Linked DNA regions of Homo sapiens. The protein of the gene in region 1 interacts with the protein of each later gene in a pairwise test. Each region holds a gene or a part of one and is shown in the gene's direction. Other genes may lie near its edges.

Region 1 (7,244 bases):
TATACACCAGGTTAGTAGAGAAAGTAGGATTTGAATTCAGGTATGCCTGGCTCCAATCCCTGTGTTCCTTCCTACATTGGAAATGGATGGCAATGAGATGCAGGGAGCAGCCTGCCTGGTATCCATAGCAGAGCCAGGTTAGGATTCTGGGTTAAGTATGTGTTGGGTCCCTGGTGTGATGATAGCACTAAGAGCTAAGATGCAGATTGAAGATGTTGAACCTAAGGTTGGGTCCCAGATATCACTTCACTCCTACAAATCCAAGGCCATGGAGTCATTTAAGAAACAGACCTTGTCTTTAAAGAACTTAGAATTTAGTAAGGAACAGTAGAACTTGTTTGGGTATGGTGTAATTACAACCCCCCAAGTTAATGAGAGTTTTTAGAGGTTTTCCTGAGGTACTGTTCCACTCATCACAGTAGACATGGGTCCACACACTGCCTACCACGGTCTCCAAAGCATGGAGACCCCAGGTTGGCATTGCCTCAGTCCCACATGCTATTGAGAGTTATGTATAAATCTAGATCATGAATACAATAAAACTTCATCATCAGGGACTTGTTATGTAGCTTATTAAACCATGTCATCTACATATACAGTAATGTTTTGTGGAGCAGCCTACATTTAACAGATACCTATTTAGAGTCTACTGTGAGCTACTTACTGGTCTAGGCACCAGGAAGGTAGCAGTGAACAAAATAGACAACTTCTTCTCAAGGGGCTTATACCATAGTGGAAGAGACAGATAATAAACGTATAAATTTGTATCATATGGTGATATGAAGAAAAATAAAGCAGGCTAAGGGTGGGAAAAATAGAGAGTGTGAATGGAGTGGTCAAATAAAGATACTTTGGTAAGGCAGCATTCGAGCAGAGATTATATCTGGGGAAAAGATTACACAGAGCAGGAGCAGAAAGTGCCAAGGCCTATGGTGGGAGCTTTCCCACAGAACATTTTCAGTGTGAGTGAATCAATATTCTCTGATATCATGGTTATAACCGGGTTTGATGTTAATTTATCCATGATTTCTTCCAATTATAGGTGTTTGTATTTGTGCCATAATAATCTAAACTCCTTGTAATTGAAACTCAATTTTATGTTTGTTCTTTTTGTTTTTAAAGTGTGTTTCCAGAACATAATTATAGAATAAGTGATCCCTTTTATTGGCCTTTTTAAGAAAACCTTCTCTAGGTTTTGCTTTGTTTTTGTTTTCTTATTCATGAATTTCTACTTACTAGTTTTCCCTTTTATGGTTTATTCTATCTTGTTCCCATGGGTTGAAAAATGTGCTTCAGTTATTTTCATGATTTCTGGATTTCATGATTTCTTTAAATAATAAAAGCATGTAAGTTTCCTCCTGAGCACAGCTTTGCTGCCTGCCATAGGGTTAGTGTTCTCACCATCATTTTCTAAATAATCTATCATTTCAAATTTGATATCTTCTTTGACTCAAGAGATATTTACAAAATGTAATTTCAAGGGGCATTTAGTTATCTTTTTATTATTACTTTTTAATCTTTCTACTGTCATAGTCATAGGATATGGACTATATGATTTTGACTCTGTCAATTTCACTAAGATTATTCTTGTAGTCTATTGCAGGATCAACTTTTATTAATGTCCTTTGGGTATTTGAAAACACATGTATGTTCTCTTTTGGTTGAGTAAAAAGGCTAAAAAAGTTATATAATCAAACATTTTAATTGTTGTTATTATGTTTAACTTGTGTTTTTCAAGTACAGTTACATTAATTTTTGTTTATTTGATCTGTCAAATTCTAAGGAAGATCTTCACTATAATTGTAGTTTGTCTAGTCCTTCTTGTATTACTAACAATTTTTGGTTTACATATTTCAGTGTTCTGTTGCTTGATGTGTCAAGGTTTATGCGTATATCTTCTCAGCATATTATATGATTAACATTATAAAATATAGCACAAGTATAAACTAATGTTTTCTGTTTTAATTCTACTTTGCCTGATATTAATATTACCATCCCTGCTTTCTTTTTAGTTTACTTTAATCAATAATATCTTTGTTCATCACCTTGTTTTCAACCTTTTTTAGGTCATATCAAGTTTTTCTCCACATATAAATAGCATATGGTTAGATTAACAAATAGAGGCCAGGTGCAGTGGCTGACGCCTGTAATCCCAGCACTTTGGGAAGCCAAGGCAGGTGGATCACCTGAGGTTGGGAGTTCAAGACCAGCCTGACGAACATGGAGAAACCCCGTCTCTACTAAAAATAAAAATTAGCCTGGTGTGGTGGTGCATGCCTGTAATACCAGCTACTCAGGAGGCTGAGGCAGGAGAATCATTTGAACCCGGGAGGCGGAAGTTGCAGTGAGCCGAGATTGTGCCATTCCACTCCAGCCTGGGCAACAAGAACAAAACTCCATCTCAAAACAAAAACAAAAAACAAAACCCAAAAAACAAATAGGAAGCATAGCTGGGGAGACCTCAGGAAACTTACAATCATGGCAGAAGGCGAAGAGGAAGGAGGCATGTTTTATGTGGCCAGAGCAGGAGGGAGAGAGAGAGAAGGGGGGAGTTGCATCTCCTGAGAACTCACTATCACAAGAACAACAAGGGGGAAGTTCGCCCTCATGATTCAGTCACCTCTCACCAGGCCCCTCCTCCAACACTGGGAATTACAATTCGACATGAGATTTGGTTAGGGACACAGAGCCAACCATATCAGCGGGCTTATTGACAGTGGTCTTTACTCCATAGTCATCAGACTAGGCAGTTTCCTTGCAGGACCCCAGGTCACTCTCTTTCAGTCTTTTGTCTCAGGCTAATCAGATTCCAGAGAATTCTAATTTCCTACCTGGAGAGTATACCAGCATTCTGGGAGCTGAAAAGGATGAGGGGGCTGAATTCAGACTTACATTGTTGACCTTAACCCCCCCAGTTTCCAGTACAGTGGTCCTGCCATCTACTGTACCTGGTGTTCCCCAACCCCAGTCCAGAGCCTTTCTGTTTTAGCTTCTCCAGAGAATATGCCTGGATTCGAATGCCAGTGAGGAGATCTAGGAGTCAACCCCTTCTTAGCCATTCCTCCTGTTTTCAGGCTGACACTCACTTGCTACTTCCAGATGTATCTAGTTGGTTTGCTACTTGGCTTTGTCCACTGCTAGTTCCTGTTATTTTTATCCTTCTAGGTTTGACCTTCTAGGTTAAAAATATCCCTTTACTTTGTGTTAGTAGGATTTGGGGAGGGAACAAAATGTGTGTGCATACATCTTCAACCAAATTCTCATTTTTCTCTACTGAATCTTTTACTGTACCTTTTATTCTGTGACTTTTATCTTAGCCATTGATCTCATTCATAGAATCTTGTCAAATGCTTCCTAAACATCTAGGTACTGCTACGTGATCCACCAGATTCTTCTTATCTGCTGTGAAAGTCATTATTTTCAAAGAACCAAGGTAGATGAATATTAAATCATAACTTCTTGCATCTGATTCAAAAGGTCCTTTAAAACTATACTCTTTTTGTGTGCATCTTTCTTAACCCTTAAAGTATTCTTTCCCTCTGAGATATATTAATCATCTTTACTTTACTTACCAGGTTCTTGACTTTATGAATCATAACTTTACTTACCAGGTTCTTGATGAGTTAAACACAGTTTTAATTACAGTTTATAAAATAAAATCTAATTTTTCTGATGTAAGTCAACATATTGGTACCTGAATAAATTATATATTATTTTTGCACATTGAAAATTCTTTTTAAATTTGGTTAATTCCCTTGCTTTCTGGTTAGCCCAGACTGTACCCCCTTACTCTCCCTCTCTTCATACTTTATTCACCTCCCCCCATATACACGTATATTCCTCCCCAGAGTAATCAAACTGGACAAGTTCTTCCAGTTTCTTGTATCTCTGAAGAAGAAACAAAGTAAAGTACATCTGGGTTAAAATCCTGACATGTCAAACTTGACGGTAGACTCTGAAATGTTAGCAGTGCTGAGTGACTGTAGGAATTAAATGCATGTTTTTGAAAGGAAGGAAAGTTATTAGGAAGGAGAGAGAGGGAGGAAGGAAATAAGGAAAGAAAGGGAAGATTTCTACAAGAGACCTAATCAAACTGCTAGTAAGTTTAAGGAAAGATGAAAAAGTACCACTGTGTAGGATAAATTTGCACATACGTTTCACAGGAAAATCTTTACAAAAGATTAGTTACAACATACATTTTCTTAAAAATCTGATATGTGTGAATGTAGATATGTACATCAGGTGCATCCCACCTAACCTGACCTGGTTGTCTATGGTGCTTAGTTGTATGGCACCTTGGAACCACCTGGGACTTTGTGAGCCTCTAATCAGAGCACTGGTGAAACAGAGAAGTGCTAAAAACATGAATATTACAGATATGTGATGAGTGCGTTTGTTCTCTCCCCAAAAGAAAGAAGCAGTCTCATTGGACAGCAGTTAGTATAAAAGTTGTACCCTCCTTGAACTCAAGAAGCAGAAGGAAAAGGAGAAATAGAGACAAAAATAGAAAAGCTGGCAAGAGAAGTAGCAACACAAGTATCAGTGGTAATAAGAACGTTAAGAAGTTGGTCCTATAACACTATAGGCCAGCGTATTCCAGGGGCCCTAGCTCTGTTCAGCAATGTTTTGTCTTCTCTTCTGTCACACCACAGGGACAAGCACAGTGCCTGACATAGGGTAATTATGCAGTCAACTTTTTTTTTTTTTTTTTCCTGAGGCAGGGTCTTGCTCTGTCACCCAGGCTGGAGTACAGTGGTGTGATCTTGGCTTCCTGCAATGTCAGCCTCCTGGGCTCAAGCAATCCTCCACCTCAGCCTCCTGAGTAGCTGGGAGGTACACACCACCAAGACTGGCAATCTTTTTGTTTTGTTTTTTGTAGTGGTAGGGTCTCACTATGTTGCCTAGGTTGGTTTTGAACTCCTGGACTCAAGCAATCCTCCCACTTTGGCCTCCCAAAGTGCTAGAATTACAGGCATGAACCACTGCTCCCAGCTCAGTCAACATTTGTTGAATGAATGAGTGAACTGAAAGAATGACAGCTTATTAAAGGCAATAAACTGTCAAACAACAGGGAAATAAAATATAAATACCAATTTCAAAAGACTAGAGAAGAGTTGAATCAAGAGTTCAGAATTAGATAGAAATGAGGTTGTATAAAAGCAGGGTGTGAAAAAATGAAGAGAATCCAGGACTATTTTCATAGATACACTTGGGGTATTGAGGACTTGCCTTTTTAATTGGAGAATGTATGGGGAATGGTTACATAGGAATGGCTTCAGCCAGGGACAAAACATACCCATGTGCTTTCATGGACTCTCCAAGGGTAACATACTAAGACTCACAGTTTTCACCCTTAAATGTTATTTAAGTTAGGTTGTGTCTTGAAATCAGAAGATACATTTGGCTATTATTCCCTGTTTCCTCTAAAAGCAATTATTAAGTTATTGTTGCTTCTTATAATAGAAAGTGTTATAGAATGACAGAAATATGTTTCACATGTTGCCATATTAAAGCACAAACATATATGGCATAGCCATTTATGGGGAAATCCACTGGCCAACCCATAGTGCCGTGGAGTAACTATACCTATAATCTGTACAAATGCTAGAGTACAAGATGAGCAGCACACAGCTAGGTGCACTATACAATCCATGCAATGAAATGGTTTCCAAATTTTCTCTAAAAAGGAGAAAGGGGAAAATGCAAATACTTTATGCTAATCTTATAAATCTTCAAGTTATACACTACTTAAAATGGTTCAAGAATAGGAAAATAAAAAGATGAATCAACAAAAGAGCTGGCTTATAAAGGACAGCTAGTCAAATTACCCATAGAGGCTATCCATTTATATTAGAAACAGGTGGCATATGAGGCATAATTGGTGCAATGGCCCAGGGACTCAGGAATATCCAAATCTTGCCTCAAATCACCAACAACCCCAAGGGAGACTTACCATAGCAAAGGAACGCAAGACACTTTGAGTGGTAATGATAACGAGGGAACCCACCTTACACAGTGTCGGAGGAGGCCACGTAGGAAAGAGTAATGAGGCATCCCTACCCGTCCCAGCCAAGGTGGTATCAGTGCAGAGCTACTAGGGGCCTGAACTGTCACCCCCACCCAGCAGTAATGAGGAGTTCCTCCCTCCAAGTGGCAACAGAGGCTGAGTCGAGAACCTGAACTTCCACCACTGTCTGGCAGTAATGAGGTGGCATTCTATTCCCCTGCTGGAGTATTGTCAGAAGGGGTCTGCTAAAACACAAAATTCAAATAAAAACCAGAAGCTCGTAATATAATACCCAAGCAAATTAGGGTTCCTATTTTTCTGGAGGTGGGAAATTTAGAGCTGATACTATGGCTCTGCGATGGTATCAGAGACCTCATTGGAGCTTACAGTCTAGTGGAGGGAAACAGATTATAGCAAATAAATAAATCTATATTATGTTGGGGGTGGTAATAATCACTATGTAGAAAAAGTAAGCAGATTATGAGAATAGAGAGTTACAGAGTAAATCTGGTTAGGTGACATTTGAAGAAAGACCTAAAAAAAGTGAGAGATGTAGACATCTGGATATCTGGGGGAATGGCATTCCAGGCAGAGGAATCAGCAAAAGCAAAGCTTCTGCAACAGGAACATGATTGACGTTTTCAAGGAACAGAAAAGAGGCCAGTTAGAGAGGAGGAAGCAAGGGGGAAAGTGGTAGGAGATGACCTCAGAAAGGCAAATAGGGCCAAGTCCTGAAGGGCCTCACAGACCTTAGTCAAGGCTTCAGATTTCACTGTGTAAAATGGGAAGTCACTGGAGGACTCTGAGCAAGGGAGTGACATTTTCTGACTTAATATTTTAAAAGGCTCGCTCTAGTTGCTATGGGAAGAATAGACCATAGGAGGGTAAGGGTTGAAAAGGCAGACAAGCTAAGCTGTGGGAGATGACAGTAGATCAGATTGATAGATGTAGACATAGTGACAAATGGGTTTGTTTTCATGAAATAGCTGACAATGTTATAGATCCTGGATTGGATATGGAGTGTGTGAGAAGATGATGAACAAAGGATGGTCCAAAGACTTTTGGCCTAACAGCTGGAAGGGACAGAATTGTCATTTATTAAATAAGGAAGACTGGAGAAAATGCAAGCTTGGTTTGAGATGCCTGTTATATATCCAAGTGAAGACGTTTGTCGTATGTCCAAGTGAAGCTGCCTGTATGTACACCTGTATATAGCTGTTTGTGGTCACCTTATTGT
Region 2 (7,886 bases), on another chromosome or scaffold:
AAGGCACCATACCCTTCTCTTCTCAAGCTAAAAGAAAAAAACTTTATTTTATTTATATTTTCTTCCCCTCCCAAAATGCCTCTTCGCCCACCCCCTTGCCTAGCAATCTCTTTCTCATCTTTCCAGTGTCTGCTTAATGTCATTTCTTCAAAAGGATTGCTTTAATCTAAATTAGGTCCTCCCCTAATAGTTCCATATTCCTTCCTTCCCTAATTTTTACAGCAATTTGTAATTTTATGCTTATTTGCTTAAGGCTCAACTCCCCAATAAACAATAAGTTCCATGAGAGTTGAGAAGGCCTCTATTTTCTTCCCCTTGGTACCACCTGCCACTAATGCAATGCCTGGCACATAATAGGTGTTCACTAGATCAAAAAAAAAAAAGTACTGGTCACTAGGCTTAGTACTTGGATGACAAAATAATCTGCACAGCAAATCCCCATGATATGAGTTTACCTGTATAACAAACCTGCACATGTATCCCTGAACCTAAAATAAACGTTTTAAAAAAATAGGTGATCACTAAATATTTCTTGACTGAACAAATGAGTGAATGAATGAATGACACCTGATAGCAGAACTGTAGCCAAAAATTTTATTTTGCTATTAATTCGAAATTCTGCAAAGAATTTGTAAGAAGACAAATTAAAGACATTAAAGACAGATTTTTGCATTGTTTGGTTTTCATTTCTCTACCTGACCTTAAGATAATTATGAACTGAAAGGACCACCTCACTGAGACACAAGGCGCGTTCTGGGCCTTGTCCATCCCGTTTCACACTGTGTATCCTTGAATGGTTCCTCTGTTTCCTTATCTTTAAAACAGGGAAAGAAAACCTCTCTCTTCCTAATTCCCACCTTCATTATAAGGTTCAAATGAGATCATATACAAGAAATCCCTTTGGAAGCTGTAAAGCAGCATATCAATGTAAGGCCATCGTGTCTTTGTACTTATCACACTCTGTAACTTCACAAAATTAAATGCTGAAGCTGCTTGTTTGCAGAGGTTTAATCATTTCCACCTGAGGACAGCAGGGACCCAGGCTGGAGAGGAGGTTCCGCCCCTGGCATCTGCGCGGCGAAATCCATATGTAAACGAGCCCTGCCCCCTGGTGGAAGGAGAAGGGTGAGCGTGCCCGGCAACTGGGATGGTCAGGATCCTAATGACAGACGCTGGCTGAAAAGGAGAATCCGCTTATTTAAGCATATACTTTTTAAAGAAATAGTTTGTCATTTTTTCTTTTTGTTGTTTTCATGTGTTTTTTAAATTAACAAATTATAATTGTGTATATTTATGTTGTACAACATGATGCTTTAAAATATATGTACTTTTTAAAGAAAACAAAAAAAAACCCAGGGTGATGTTTTAAAATATGTATACATTTTTAAAGGAAAAAAACCCAGTTTTCTTTTGATTAAGAAAAGTTAAAAAAAAGACAAAAAGAAAATACGTGTACATTGTGGAATGGCTCAGTCAAAGTAATTAACCCACACATCACCCCATATCTGTATCATCTTTTGTGGTGAAAACACTTAAATTCTACTCTCTTAGCAATTTTCAAGTATGCAATGCATTGTTGTTTCTTTTCTTGTTGTAAAATGGCCTTTTGGAAACATTTTACTTACTTATAAAGGATACAGACACGTTACACCAATGAGTTGTCTAATTATTATTTGGAGTTTAGTAATAAATGAGAGATTTGCAATTCTTTATACATTTTCATATTCTAATTCCTTATAGCTAAATCTCAGCAATTCAATTAGAATCATTTTACAACTCACGCGTGTTAAGACTATGGATGGTGTATGCTAGAAAATTTCAGCTTATATATTTCCCTATGTGTTACATGCGTTTTATTTAACTTTGTTATACTGTGTATATTGTGTACATACTGGACAAGTGAGTCCTAATTTTATAATATCTAGTCTCTAGATATTAAAGAGGTTGCCAATGTTTAAAAAAAGACTACAAATGGCAACATATAAAGTATTTGTATGAGCATGCATCATAGAGTAATTACTTATGTCTAAATATATTCACGGTGCCAGAATACCAAGGTCAACTTGAACATATGCCACGTTTTCACCTGGCCTATCCCTCACAGCTCTGAGCAAATTGTTCAACATTTCTGAGTCTCAGTTGCCCTGAACTGCCAAATAAGGGGCTAAATTAGGTGATGTCTAAGGCTCTTTGCAACTCTAAAAATATCCTACAACTTTGTCCAGAAAATGCATCTTAGAGGCCACACGCGAGCCACCCTCAGCACCAGCTAATCAGGCTCCAGACTGTTTAGGCCAAGGCAATTCCAGGAGACCACCCCTGACTATTCTGGTGGCAAAACAATTTTATACTTGTCATCACTCCCTGAACCCAGTCAAATCCAACCAAGTGGACTCAAAACCAGTCACGTCCAACCAAGTGTCTCCTGTCCCTTGTCCCTCCTTTTTCCTGCCCTGCCAACCCTCTTCATCCCCACCCTCCACAGCCATGGCCTCAAGAGGAAGGAGGCTTCTCCTTGGTCACCTCTCCTTCCCTTCCAGCCTGATGTCCCAGCCCTCCACACTCACACACCCAGTTAGGAACAACACCAATAGTAATAATAATGGCTTCCATTCATTGACAGTTTTCCATTTGCCAGGCACCGCACTAAGCATGATCTCATTTAGTTTTTCAACAAGCTTATGAGGTGGAAACTCTTTTTACCCACACTTTGACAATTACATGAACCTTTTCTGCAGACCTCTCTGCAAAATAGTTCAACTGAAATGATTCTTTAATAGCATTAACCACTTTCTGCTGAATTGTCCTAACAACTTTTTCTATCAGAAACTTATCCTTCATCCTCGATCTCCATTCCCATCTCTCTCCCCTTTCCTCTCATTTTCTCCCACATCTTTTCCTCTCATTTTCTCCCACATCTTTTCTTGTCATCTCCTCTCCATCCTCCTTCTTCACTTCCATCTCCTCTTCTGCTCCCACTTCCACACACCTAACATAAGGACTTCAAGGCAGAGTCTGTGTTCTCTAGATCCCCAATGCCACATCTAGCTTTGTGCCACTTAATTCTTATGCTAAGACTCCTCTTTTGAGGCAAATGCCATCCAATGGCCCCTCACCACATACACTCCCCTCTGCCTCATCATCCAAAAACCTTGACAATGGCTCACAGCCCACTTCCCTCCTGTCTCCTGCCATCATGAGAAACTTCACGCCTTTATAGATGGTACATTTAATGTCACAGACAGATAGTTCCTGACCTCCTACTCTCTTGCCTTTCAGGTCCAATCCACTTCTGACTTCTTGTTCCAGTGACTGTTGGTCCACTCCCATGACTACTCTGTGGACTTTGGTGACACCTGGAGTTGTGCCTACTTTAAAATTCTAAATTCTGGTTTCCACTATCCAATTTTAGCCTGTCATCCTTCACCTTTATCAATCTCCTCCTCACACTCCGCCTGCTCCATGACCTCATAAGGATACCCAATGACTCACCCTCTGCCCTTTTCTTCAGTCCATCTGTCCCTCTGGTTTTACTTTCTTCTTGCTATATGATCATACAGTCAATCGCCTCAATTGTTTTCTCAAGAACACCAGAAATTTCTTTGCCACTATTTCCTTCTTCTGGACCTGTCTTCAAATCCCAAAACCCACATCAATCTGATCATCATCCTTTCTATTCCTGCACCAGGATTACTTCCAAATATGCAGTTGAACATCATTATAAATGAGAGCTGGACCCTCCAATTTTCTTTTACTCATTGCTAGTCAAGTATTTTTCCAGTTCAGTATACATATTCTAAACAGTCATTCTTGCTATCAGTCACCTTCATCTGGAACATTCTGGCAACCCCTCAAATCCAGTTGGTCCAAACCTAAACTCAGTGTCTTCCTCCTCCTCTATTCCCCATCTCAGTGAATATTATGAGTTCCCAGAATCTAAAATTAATTACCTAAGAGTTATCCCCAATTCTGCCTTATTCCCTACTCTCCAAATTCAATCATATTACCATATGCTCTCAAAGCCATCTTCTCTGCATCCCCACTGCCTTCATCCTTCTCACCTGGACCATTATTCCAACCTTGTAATTGACCACCTTGTTTCATTTCAACCTGATCATTTTGCCCTCTGCTTTTTACTTAGGATTCATTACAAACTCTTTAGACCAGCACAGAAAGCTAACCATGATCCAGCCCCTGTCTGGACCTGACAATAGATTTCTTAAAGATTGTAATCACGCATTTTTCACTTCTGCATTTAGTTAACACTATGTCTTTCATTTTAGCACTTAGCATAGAGCACCAAACATCATAACCATGCTATTTTAAACAAAATAATAGGTCAATATTTGTGTCATTGTCCAAGATAATAAATAGATGTTATAATCATGGTAAGAACAGAGATGTCACTAGCCTCTGTTTTCTAAATAACACATTTTTTTCTGGTGGGATAAAATATCTGTTTCTGTAATTAGCAGTCCTTTATACCCCTCCATGGTAATTGAGACCCTACTGTACCTCACAGAACTCTATCATAATCTTACTTAACTTTATAAAAAATTTGATAATACCTGGCGCCAGATAATGACAGTATATGCCTAGGGTCTAGATGAAAGGAAAGGATTACTCACTCAAAATTAGAAGTTAAATTAATAAACTTAATATAGAACAAACCCTATTATATTTAAGATAAGAAATAGCCCAAAGCAACACCGAGGGATGTTAGACATTAATTATTTTTAAAATCACCCAATTATACATAATTTTATGCTAATCTAAGTGATGCCATTTTGCTTTTGGCATGTATAACTCAAATAGGAACGCCCCAATAATGATATATAAAAACCCAAAGAAATTATCAGTGCATGATATTCTGTTCTCTTGGGACATTACAGTTTTGCATAGACAAGGTGAACATTTCTCAAAACACCATGTCTCTCCAATTTTCTAATGGATCCAGGCATGTTTGCTTAAGGTCTGGAGCTGGATCTGTCAGACCCCTCAATGGAGGTGCAGGCTTTGCAGGCAGCAGTGCATGTGGTGGCTCTGTTGCTGGAAGTGAATTTTCCTGTGCCTTGGGAGGGGGCTTGGGCAGTGTTCCTGGTGGGAGCCATGCTGGTGGTGCCCTTGGAAATGCTGCTTGTATTGGCTTTGCTGGAAGCGAAGGGGGACTCCTCTCTGGAAATGAGAAGGTGACCATGCAAAATCTTAATGACCGCTTGGCATCCTACCTGGATAATGTGCGAGCTCTGGAGGAGGCAAATGCTGAATTAGAGAGAAAAATCAAGGGTTGGTATGAAAAATACGGACCTGGATCTTGCCGTGGACTTGATCATGACTATAGCAGATATCACCTAACAATTGAGGATCTTAAGAATAAGGTGAGAAATCACAGATTTGGAACTAACCCAAGTATTTAAAACTAAGAAATACCTAACAAAAGACATACAATAAGAAATGCTTCATGACTGTTATAACTTGTATTTATTTATTTAGATAAACAATTCTTCCTACTATTCAAAAATGGGCCCTTTGATTCATGAATTTTAATGTAGTTAAAATGTTATTAGTTCCATTGTTTATGTTGAAGTACATTCATAGGCATATGAATAAAAAAGTATTGTAGTTCTAAATTTAGGGGAATATATGAGAATAAATAAAACCATGTCTTTAATTTTTAAAAGTTAAACTTGAAACATTTTGATTATTACATAAGGAGGTGAAATTTTTATGCAAAAACTTGAGTAACCTTTTTCATTTCCTGAAATAATGAATCACATAAAAGCATACTTACTTGTTGTGTTCTCTGTTTTGGTTTATTCTAGATTATCTCCTCCACTACTACTAATGCTAATGTCATTCTGCAGATTGATAATGCCAGACTGGCTGCTGATGATTTCAGGCTAAAGTAAGTGACAGAAGAAAATCCTGCTCTAGAAAAAAGTTTCTATTTATTTAATTTGTTAAATAAAATTTCTATTTCATCCCAAGTAGAATGAACTATCACCTAAAAGATAAAAGGAAGCAAAGGATTTGTATTATAATGTTACAATCAACTTATACATAGTTATTATATTCCTGGGACAAAATATCAATATATTTCTCTGCCTGCCTAGAATACTGCCAAGCACAAAGTAGATGCTCAGTAAATCATTAGTCAACTAAGGAAAAACGTTAACTAAAATAAAATTCCAAAATGGTGTATTTTTATTTAACTAGGTTATGCTATTGGAATTTGTGTGATGAAATAACTTCCAATTATCCTGTACAGAATTGAGTGGGGGTAATGCAGGAGCGCTTTCTTCATATATTTTTATACTATTTACAGTCCTAATTCAATTTCTAATTTTCAGTTTAAAGCAATTGGGATTGAATATTTCTGTTTCTTGGGGTAGTCTTACTGGCACTGAAATTCACTTAAATGCCCCCCAAGGTATGAAAATGAGCTCACCCTTCACCAAAACGTAGAGGCCGACATCAACGGATTACGGCGAGTCCTGGACGAGCTGACGCTCTGCAGGACCGACCAGGAGCTGCAATATGAGTCTCTGAGTGAGGAGATGACATATCTCAAAAAGAACCACGAAGAGGTAGGAGAAGCTTTACCTGTAGTCCAATCACAACTCTGTACATTTTAAATACTGGGCAGGGGTTGGGGGTTAAAATCACAATAGTAATTCAGGTTCATTGTTATAATTTGCCAACGGATACAGACAGATTAGTCTAATAATACTACCTACTACGAGGGGATGTTAAAAGGCTTCAATGAATTAATACATATCACACGCTCAGAACAGTGCCTGGCCTATAATAATCACTCAATAAATGACAGCGGTCATCCCTAGGATGAATGCCTATGAGGGCCAGGATTTCAGGATTTTTTCTACTGTTCTATTCCCATCAACCTGACATTTAGTCAGTAACTATATGTTGAGTAACTCTCCGGTCTTTAAATCCCTTTCTCATTTAAAAGAATAAATTACTTCTCTTGGGGTGCTATGACTGTTTTTGGTGGTGGTGGTAATTTTAATTAACAGGTCCCTAATTTTTTTTGTTTGTTTTCTATTGCTTTGTTTTGAGACAGAGTCTCGCTCTGTGGCCAGGCTGGAGTGCAGTGGCGCAATCTCAGCTCACTGCAACCTCCACCTCCCAGGTTCAAGCAATTCTCCTGCCTCAGCCTCTGGAGTAGCTGGGACTACAGGCGCACACCACCAAGCCTGGCTAATTTTTGTATTTTTAGTAGAGATGGGTTTTCGCCATGTTGGCCAGGCTGGTCTGGAACTCTTGGCTTCAAGTGATCCGCCCGCCTCAGCCTCCCAAAGTGCTGGGATTACAGGAGTGAGCCACCTCGCCCGGTCAACAGTTCACTAATTAAATAGATGATTGGCATGAATATGGACCGAATATGTCAATTAAAAAATTGTGTGCCATAAATTATACACCTGACCGCAAACTTTGAGACATAAAGTAACACGTTTGAGAACTTCTCAGACTGAGTGTGAACCTGCAATGCCCCTAAAGCCACACTCTTGCTTCTCTCCAGGAGATGAAGGCTCTGCAGTGCGCGGCTGGGGGCAACGTGAACGTGGAGATGAACGCGGCCCCGGGGGTAGACCTCGCGGTTTTGTTGAACAACATGCGAGCGGAGTACGAAGCCCTTGCAGAGCAGAACCGCAAGGACGCGGAGGCCTGGTTCAATGAGAAGGTGAGGTGGGCCCCGTCTCCCTGCTCACACCTCCCCGGGGGTGGGGACTCCGTGTGACCCTTTTTCCCGGCCCTACAGAGCGCCTCGCTGCAGCAACAGATCTCCCACGACTCAGGCGCAGCCACTTTCGCCCGGAGCCAGCTCACCGAGATGAGGCGCACCCTGCAGACCCTGGAGATCCAGC
Region 3 (7,244 bases), on another chromosome or scaffold:
CCAGCTTGGCTCACTGCAACCTCTACCTCCTGGGCTTAATCCATCCTTTCACCTCAGCCTCCCAAGTAGCTGGGACTACAGGGATGTACCACCATGCTCGGCTAATTTTTGTATTTTTGGTGGAGTTGGGGTTTTGCCATGTTGAGGCTGGTCTCAAACTCGTGAGCTTAAGCAATCCACCTGCCTCAGCCTCCCAAAGTGTTGGGATTACTGGTGTGAGCCACCGCGCTTGGCCGTGTTAGTGTTCTTTGAAGCACAAAAGTTTTAAATGTTTATTACATCCAATTTATCTATTTTTTTCTTGTTTTAGGTATCATATCTAAGAAACTATTGCCTAATCCCAATTCCAAGAAATATTTATTTATGTATTTATTTATTTATTTATTTATTTTTGAGACAGAGTCTCACTCTGTTGCCCAGGCTGGAGTACAGTGGTGCCATCTCAGCTCACTGCAACCTCCACCTCCCGGGTTCAACCAATTTTTCTGTCTCAGCCTCCTGAGTAGCTGGGATTACAGGTGCGCGCCACCATGCCTGGCTAATTTTTTTTGTATTTTTAGTAGAGACAGAGTTTTACCATGTTGGTCAGGCTGGTGGTGAACTCCTGACCTCAGGTAATCCACCTGCCTCGGCCTCCCAAAGTGCTGGGATTATAGGCGTGAGCCACCACATCCAGCCAAGAAATTTATGTTTAAGGGTTGTAGCTCTTACATTTAGGTCTTTGATCAGTTTAGAGTTAATTTTTGTATACAGCATAAGGTCCAACCTTATTCTTTTGCATGTGGATATAGTTGTCCGTATGTTGAAAAGATTATTCTTTCCTTTTTTTTTTTTTTTGAGACGGAGTCTTGCTCTGTTGCCCAGGCTGGAGTGCAGTGGCGCTATCTCGGCTCACTGCAAGCTCCGCCTCCCAGGTTCACGCCATTCTTCTGCCTCAGCCTCCCGAGTAGCTGGGACTACAGGCGCCCGCCACCAAGCCTGGCAAATTTTTTGTATTTTTTAGTAGAGACAGGGTTTCACCATGTTAGCCAGGATGGTCTCAATCTCCTGACGTCGTGATCCGCCCTTCTCGGCCTCCCAAAGTGCTGGGATTACAGGCGTGAGCCACCGCGCCTGGCCAGAAAAGATTATTCTTTCCTGACTGAATTGCTTTGGCACCTTTGTCAACAACAATTGCCTTATAAAGTATGAGTTTTTTAAATTTCTGGACTCTGAATTCTGTTCTACTGATCTGTATGTCTATCTTTAAATCATGTCACACAGTCTTGATTTCTGTAGCTTTGTAGTAAGCTTTGAAATTGGGAATTGTGAGTCTTTCAACTTCGTTATTCTTTTTCAAGATTATTTTGCCTATTTTGGGTTTGTTGCATTTCCATATGGATTTTAGAAACTGCTTTTCAATTTCTGCAAAAAATCCAGTGGGGATTTTGATAGGGATTGCACTGATAAGTAGATCAATTTGGAGACTATTACTGTCTTAACAATATTAAGTCTTCCAATCCATGAATTTGGGATGTCTTTCCATGTATTTAGGTCTTAAATTTCTTTTAGTGATGTTTTGTAGTTTTCATTGTACTTGCACTGCTTTTGTTAAATTTATTCCTATTTTATTTGTTTTGGTCTAATTTATAAATGAAATGTTTTAAAAATTACATTTATGGATTGTTCTAGTGATTTTTTTAATGGAGTGATATTCATACTTTGTTACTTGATTTTTTTCTCTCCAAGATGCATCAATCTCAAATAATTCTACAAGTAAAAGGAAATCTGAGTCTGCCACTTGCAACTTAGTCAGAGACATAAACAAAGTGGGAATTGGCCTTGTTGCTGCCGCTTCATCTCCGCTTCTTGTGAAAGATGTCATTTGTGAGGATGATAAGGGAAAAATCATGGAAGAAGTAATGAGAACTTATTTAAAACAACAGGAAAAACTAAACTTGATTTTGCAAAAGAAGCAACAACTTCAGATGGTAAAATTGTTATCTAAATGATAGTCCATTATGAAAAGATACTTTTGTATATTGCTCTGTCGCCCAGGCTGGAGTGCAGTGGCGCAGTCTCAGCTCACTGAAACCTCCACCTCACAGGTTCAAGCAATTCTTCTGCCTTAGCCTTCCGAGTAGCTAGCATTACAGGCACGTGCCACCATGCCTGGCTAAATTTTGTATTCTTAGTAGAGATGGGGTTTCTCCATGCTGGCCAGGCTCGAACTTTTGACCTTGTGATCCACCAGCCTTGGCCTCCCAAAGTGCTGGGATTACAGGTGTGAGCCACTGCGCCCAGCCCCCCTGTATATTCTTAGTAAGAAAAGTCAAAACGAGATGCTACAAATGTACTTAAGATTATTGTTTTACACTGAAAAGCAATTTTAATATATTTTAAAATTTTTTGAGAAAATAGTTTTTTAAAATAATTACCTCTATATAGAACTGATAATGATAGCTGAATTTTAGGTATTTTCTGTGCTATGTTTTCCAGAACTGAAAATTTTAACATGGTGAAAATAAAGTAAAACTTGTATTGTGATTCTTTACATTACAGGAAGTAAAAATGTTGAGTAGTTCAAAATCTATGAAGGAACTCACTGAAGAACAGCAGAATTTACAGAAAGAGCTTGAATCTTTGCAGAATGAACATGCTCAAAGAATGGAAGAATTTTATGTTGAACAGAAAGACTTAGAGAAAAAATTGGAGCAGATAATGAAGCAAAAATGTACCTGTGACTCAAATTTAGAAAAAGACAAAGAGGCTGAATATGCAGGACAGGTAAGAATTACTGTTTGTATAATGGTGCCCTTTCAGCATGGAAATGGAAACTGTTACTTCTCTCTTTTTTTTTTTTGAGACAGAGACTGCTCTGTCGCCCAGGCTGGAGTGCAGTGGCACAATCTCAGCTCCCCACAACCTCTGCCTCCCGGGTTCAAGCAATTTTCCTGCCTCAGCCTCCTGATTGTAGCTGGGATTACAGGCGTGCGACACTATGCCCAGCTAAATTTTGTATTTTTTAGTAGAGACGGGGTTTCACCATGTTGGTCAGTCTGGTCTTGAACTCCTGACCTCATGATCTGCCCACCTCAGCCTCCCAAAATGCTGGGATTACAAGCATGAGCCACTGCACCCGGCCACCGTTACTTCTCTAATAAAGGAATTACTTTTTGTCAAGCTCAGTTTACTAAGCTAGATTTCAAAATAGATAATTCTGTTAAACATAGCTTTATGCTGTATTGTCCAAGATGATTATTTTGATGTTTGTTGCTTTTATTAGTTTAAATTTTTATCGGGTTACTGCAGTTTAGTTACCTAAATTGCTAATCTCTAGCCCTCTGAATATTATATGTTATATTATTTTAATGTAGTATATGAGCTTTCAAATCTACAAATTAACAAACAGGAACTGTTGCCTGTTATGTTCAAAAGCACTGGAGCAAAAATAAGCAATTCTCTTTTGTTAATAGAATCTCACAATTTAAGGAACATGAACAAATAACTAACATGAGCAGGCTGTGATGAGCGGTATAGTAAAGTATAGGGCATAATGAACATGAACATGCTGGATGTGTTCCTTCCTCTTGTTCCTTTGCTTTTTCTTAAATTTAGTGTCCTGTCAGATGTCAGATTAATAGTATTAGATGCTTAATGGATTTAGTATACATGAAATAGTTCGTTTTGTAAAAAGTAATTTGAAAATAGATATTTTCTATGATATGAGGATTAAATGGAAAAACAAAACAATTAAAATTGATAGCGCCTTTTAAATCACATAGTTGGCAGAACTGAGGCAGAGATTGGACCATGCTGAGGCCGATAGGCAAGAACTCCAAGATGAACTCAGACAGGAACGGGAAGCAAGACAGAAGTTAGAGATGATGATAAAAGAGCTAAAGCTGCAAATTCTGAAATCATCAAAGACTGCTAAAGAATAGAAACTGTTAAAGAGATTCATCTGTGTATTACTGACAAGGTTTTTTTTGTTTGTTGCTTGCTTTGGTAATTGAATTCTGAAGAATTTATCTGCATGACGATAACTAGGCATTCTATCCATTTGTAGATCAGAGAAAGTGAAGAGATTATATATTAGTACTTAAATTTTTACATTTTCCAAATGAATGAAAATGTATGTTTCTTTGTACTTTTTTAAAAAAATCAGCTTAGTAACAATACTATATGGTTTCAACTAGTAGGTAATCTGCTTATATTTCTAATGCAAACTTAACAATTGTGTACTTTTTAAAAGCTGCAATATGTGTTGGAAAATAGCTGTGGTCAATTTTGTTATCCATATTTCAGACTCAATTTTAGATACAATGGTGGCTTTATATTTTAAGTATATAGAGCTACTCAAGGAGTTGAATCTCCCCTTTTCTCATTAACACAATTTTTCTAAGTTGATATGGTGTACTCATTAACATACACCAAATTTACTTTTACTTTGTTCAGATTGTGGAATGAATTTCCACCAGTTCTCTTCTTTTTAATGTGTACCCTAGGAGGAATTTTACTGAGGTTATAGCATACCCCATGAGCACAGTGGGGAAGAAGAATGTGTTGTTATGTGCTGCTGCTAAACAGAAGCAGCAGTTGTAATTTGTTTTTCAGTTTAAATGTGGTTATAGTTAGATTTTTTTTTAAGCAGCAACTTTTCAAAAATAAAATGTGATAATTTCTGAACTTTTGTTTGTGTTGTTAATAGTGGTGTGAAAATATTAACGTTCTTGAGAAAAACTGATACCACTGTTGTGTATCAGTTTCTATACAATCCATAATCCTCCTGTACAGTTTTTACATGTAGTTATGAGTCTTACTAAAATTTATATAATGGACTTGTTTTCCTTTAAGTTGTAAAATGTTAAACACCTTGAAGGTTATTTTGGACTTCTGTATGTTTAAATGTTGTCTTACCAAAATTTGCACGAATGGACCATTTTCATTTACTACTTAATATCAAAATCAGGAATTTACAGTCAACTGATAGTACATGATAGGTGCATATAGGACAGTTTAGTTACCTGCTACTAAAAGATTTTTAGATAAGTTTTAGAAGATAAAGGAATTCCATAGTTTCAGGAGGGACAACATCTTCTGCACTTTTTTTTTGCACAGAAAAGTCTGTCATTCTCTAATGGCAAATTTCATATTTGTTAATTCTTGGCTCAAAATATATTAGGTAAAATTCTTAGATCTGTTTTTAAAGGGAGTTTCCTGAAACTATCATTAATTGACATTATTACCCCATGGATTTTATGGGATAATAAATGTTTTTCATGTTCTCTTATAAGATACTATGTATGAAATTACTTCAGAGAGCTATATTTATTTTAAAATAAATTAGCTAGGGTTAAGGTTATATTCTATTTCCAGCATAGAAGGTAGATAATCTAATGGTGTAGAAAGAATCACTAGGTTGTCATTTAACCAGTTATTTTCATATTTTGCTTAATAGTACATATCCAAAAAGAATTTTGTACTTCCCCAAATGTAATTTATTTACTAAATTGAGTATAACCTAAATGTGTGTTTTCTATTTTCCATTTAAATTTTGCTATATTAAGACTAATTTAATTCGTTGAGTCTTGGAATCTTCTCAAGGAGGAACAAATATTAAAATGACATGTAGAAACAAATTTTTTTTTTTTTTTTTTTTTTTTTTTTTTTGAGACAGAGTCTCGCTGTCTCCCAGGCTGGAGTTCAGTGGTGCAATCTCGGCTCACTGCAAGCTCTGCCTCCTGGGTTCAAGCCATTCTCCTGCCTCAGCCTCCCGAGTAGCTGGGACTACAGGCACCCACCACCACTCCCGGCTAATTTTTAGAAACAAATATTTAAAATGACATATTCTCCCAATACAATCTATTTAGATCTGGAGAAGGAAAAATCAGATATTTATGATATAGTTTTATTTTAATTTTGAATTATTTGTGTCACAGCTCAGCTTTTTGGAAGACAAACTCAAACACCTATAATTTCATTTATATTTCTAATTCACTTGGAACCTTTCTGCTTTATGTTACCTAGAAAATGATAATTTGTTTAACCCAAAACTTCTAAAATAAATTGCTTAATCCTTGAAATATGTTATTGGAAAATTTTAAGCAGTGCTTAAACACCATTAAATTATTATGAACTTGTAATTCAGAATTGAGTAAAGAAATATTTTTTCTAGTCCTTCATATATTGAAAACTTGCCACATGACATTGTATCGTCTTCATTTTCCAGAAGATGCGTTGGTGTGCCATAGGTTTCTAACTTCCTTGAAAATAGTTTTTTAAGTCAATTGTAAATATACGTATTATTGTTAAAAGTAACTTTAAACTGCAACACATAGCTTCAAAACAATATAGAGATTTTGTAATACCTTATAAGTGGAGTTGGCTAAAATACCTTATCCATATAAAACTTATTCTATTCTTTGCATGCTTATTTTGTGTGTTGGTTGCTAGCTTAAAGTTTGATTTGTTGTTACTCTTTGTGTGCCAAATTCACTAGGCAAGCGGATTTTTCCTCAGACTTCAAAAAATAATTCTTTTAAGAAAAAATGTAAAAATGTTTATTCTAAAAAGCTGCATTAAAGGGACAACCTATAAAAAGTTTTGCTAGCTCATCTTTAGAAGGAAGAAAGAATATTAGCTTGGGTGATGTTTAATTTGGGTGGCGATAGTTTCTGTAGGCTAAACTTTATGAGAAAAGTGTACCTACTCTATAAAGGTAATAAATGTAAAACCTCTTGCTGTTATTGAGGAAGCTCTTCAACTACCCTAAATTTCACAAATGTAACTTATAACACTATGAAAAGATTTGACCAACAATTTACGTTTGCTGTGTGCTTTAGTTTTTGTTTAAGCATATTCTTTTGCTTGAATTTCTGTGTTCATGAGAGTTAGGGTGTTTTATGCTTCTTGAACTAATTTTATAACATATTTAATATATTACCAGTTAAGATATAAAATCATTTGTACATAGCGAATTGTAAAGCAGCTATTAAAGTAGGTGAAATAAAGTATATATTTGCCGGTTATCCATATCTTTTAGAAGTCCTGACAGAACAACCAGTTTATTTGCACATAGGTAGCTTCTGTTTGAAGGAAGGTAAAGTTATAAGGAAACTCAAATACTATAAGATGTGTCAAGGTATTTCTCCAGAATTAATTGCAAAGCTAGTGCTGAAGGATTTTAATCAGCTTCTAAAATTTTCTTCTCAATAAGGCATATGTTTTGATTACTTAGGGAAGATTCCTCATTTTTATTTGCC

Evidence for each region. The genes of interacting proteins can lie anywhere in the genome.
Region 2: the proteins of DEUP1 (region 1) and KRT28 interact in binary tests that used the Homo sapiens proteins (3 or more experiments, as listed by UniProt).
Region 3: the proteins of DEUP1 (region 1) and SKIL interact in binary tests that used the Homo sapiens proteins (3 or more experiments, as listed by UniProt).

What each region holds. Positions count from the first base shown.
Region 1 is NC_000011.10:93,333,711-93,340,954, forward strand, and holds part of DEUP1 (deuterosome assembly protein 1), read left to right. Parts: intron 1-7,244. UniProt on the Homo sapiens protein: Key structural component of the deuterosome, a structure that promotes de novo centriole amplification in multiciliated cells.
Region 2 is NC_000017.11:40,796,936-40,804,821, reverse strand, and holds the start of KRT28 (keratin, type I cytoskeletal 28), read left to right. Parts: upstream 1-4,862; 5' UTR 4,863-4,928; coding exon 4,929-5,378; intron 5,379-5,822; coding exon 5,823-5,905; intron 5,906-6,430; coding exon 6,431-6,587; intron 6,588-7,540; coding exon 7,541-7,702; intron 7,703-7,780; coding exon 7,781-7,886. UniProt on the Homo sapiens protein: Essential for the proper assembly of types I and II keratin protein complexes and the formation of keratin intermediate filaments in the inner root sheath (irs).
Region 3 is NC_000003.12:170,388,495-170,395,738, forward strand, and holds part of SKIL (ski-like protein), read left to right. Parts: intron 1-1,728; coding exon 1,729-1,970; intron 1,971-2,541; coding exon 2,542-2,766; intron 2,767-3,764; coding exon 3,765-3,923; 3' UTR 3,924-7,244. UniProt on the Homo sapiens protein: May have regulatory role in cell division or differentiation in response to extracellular signals.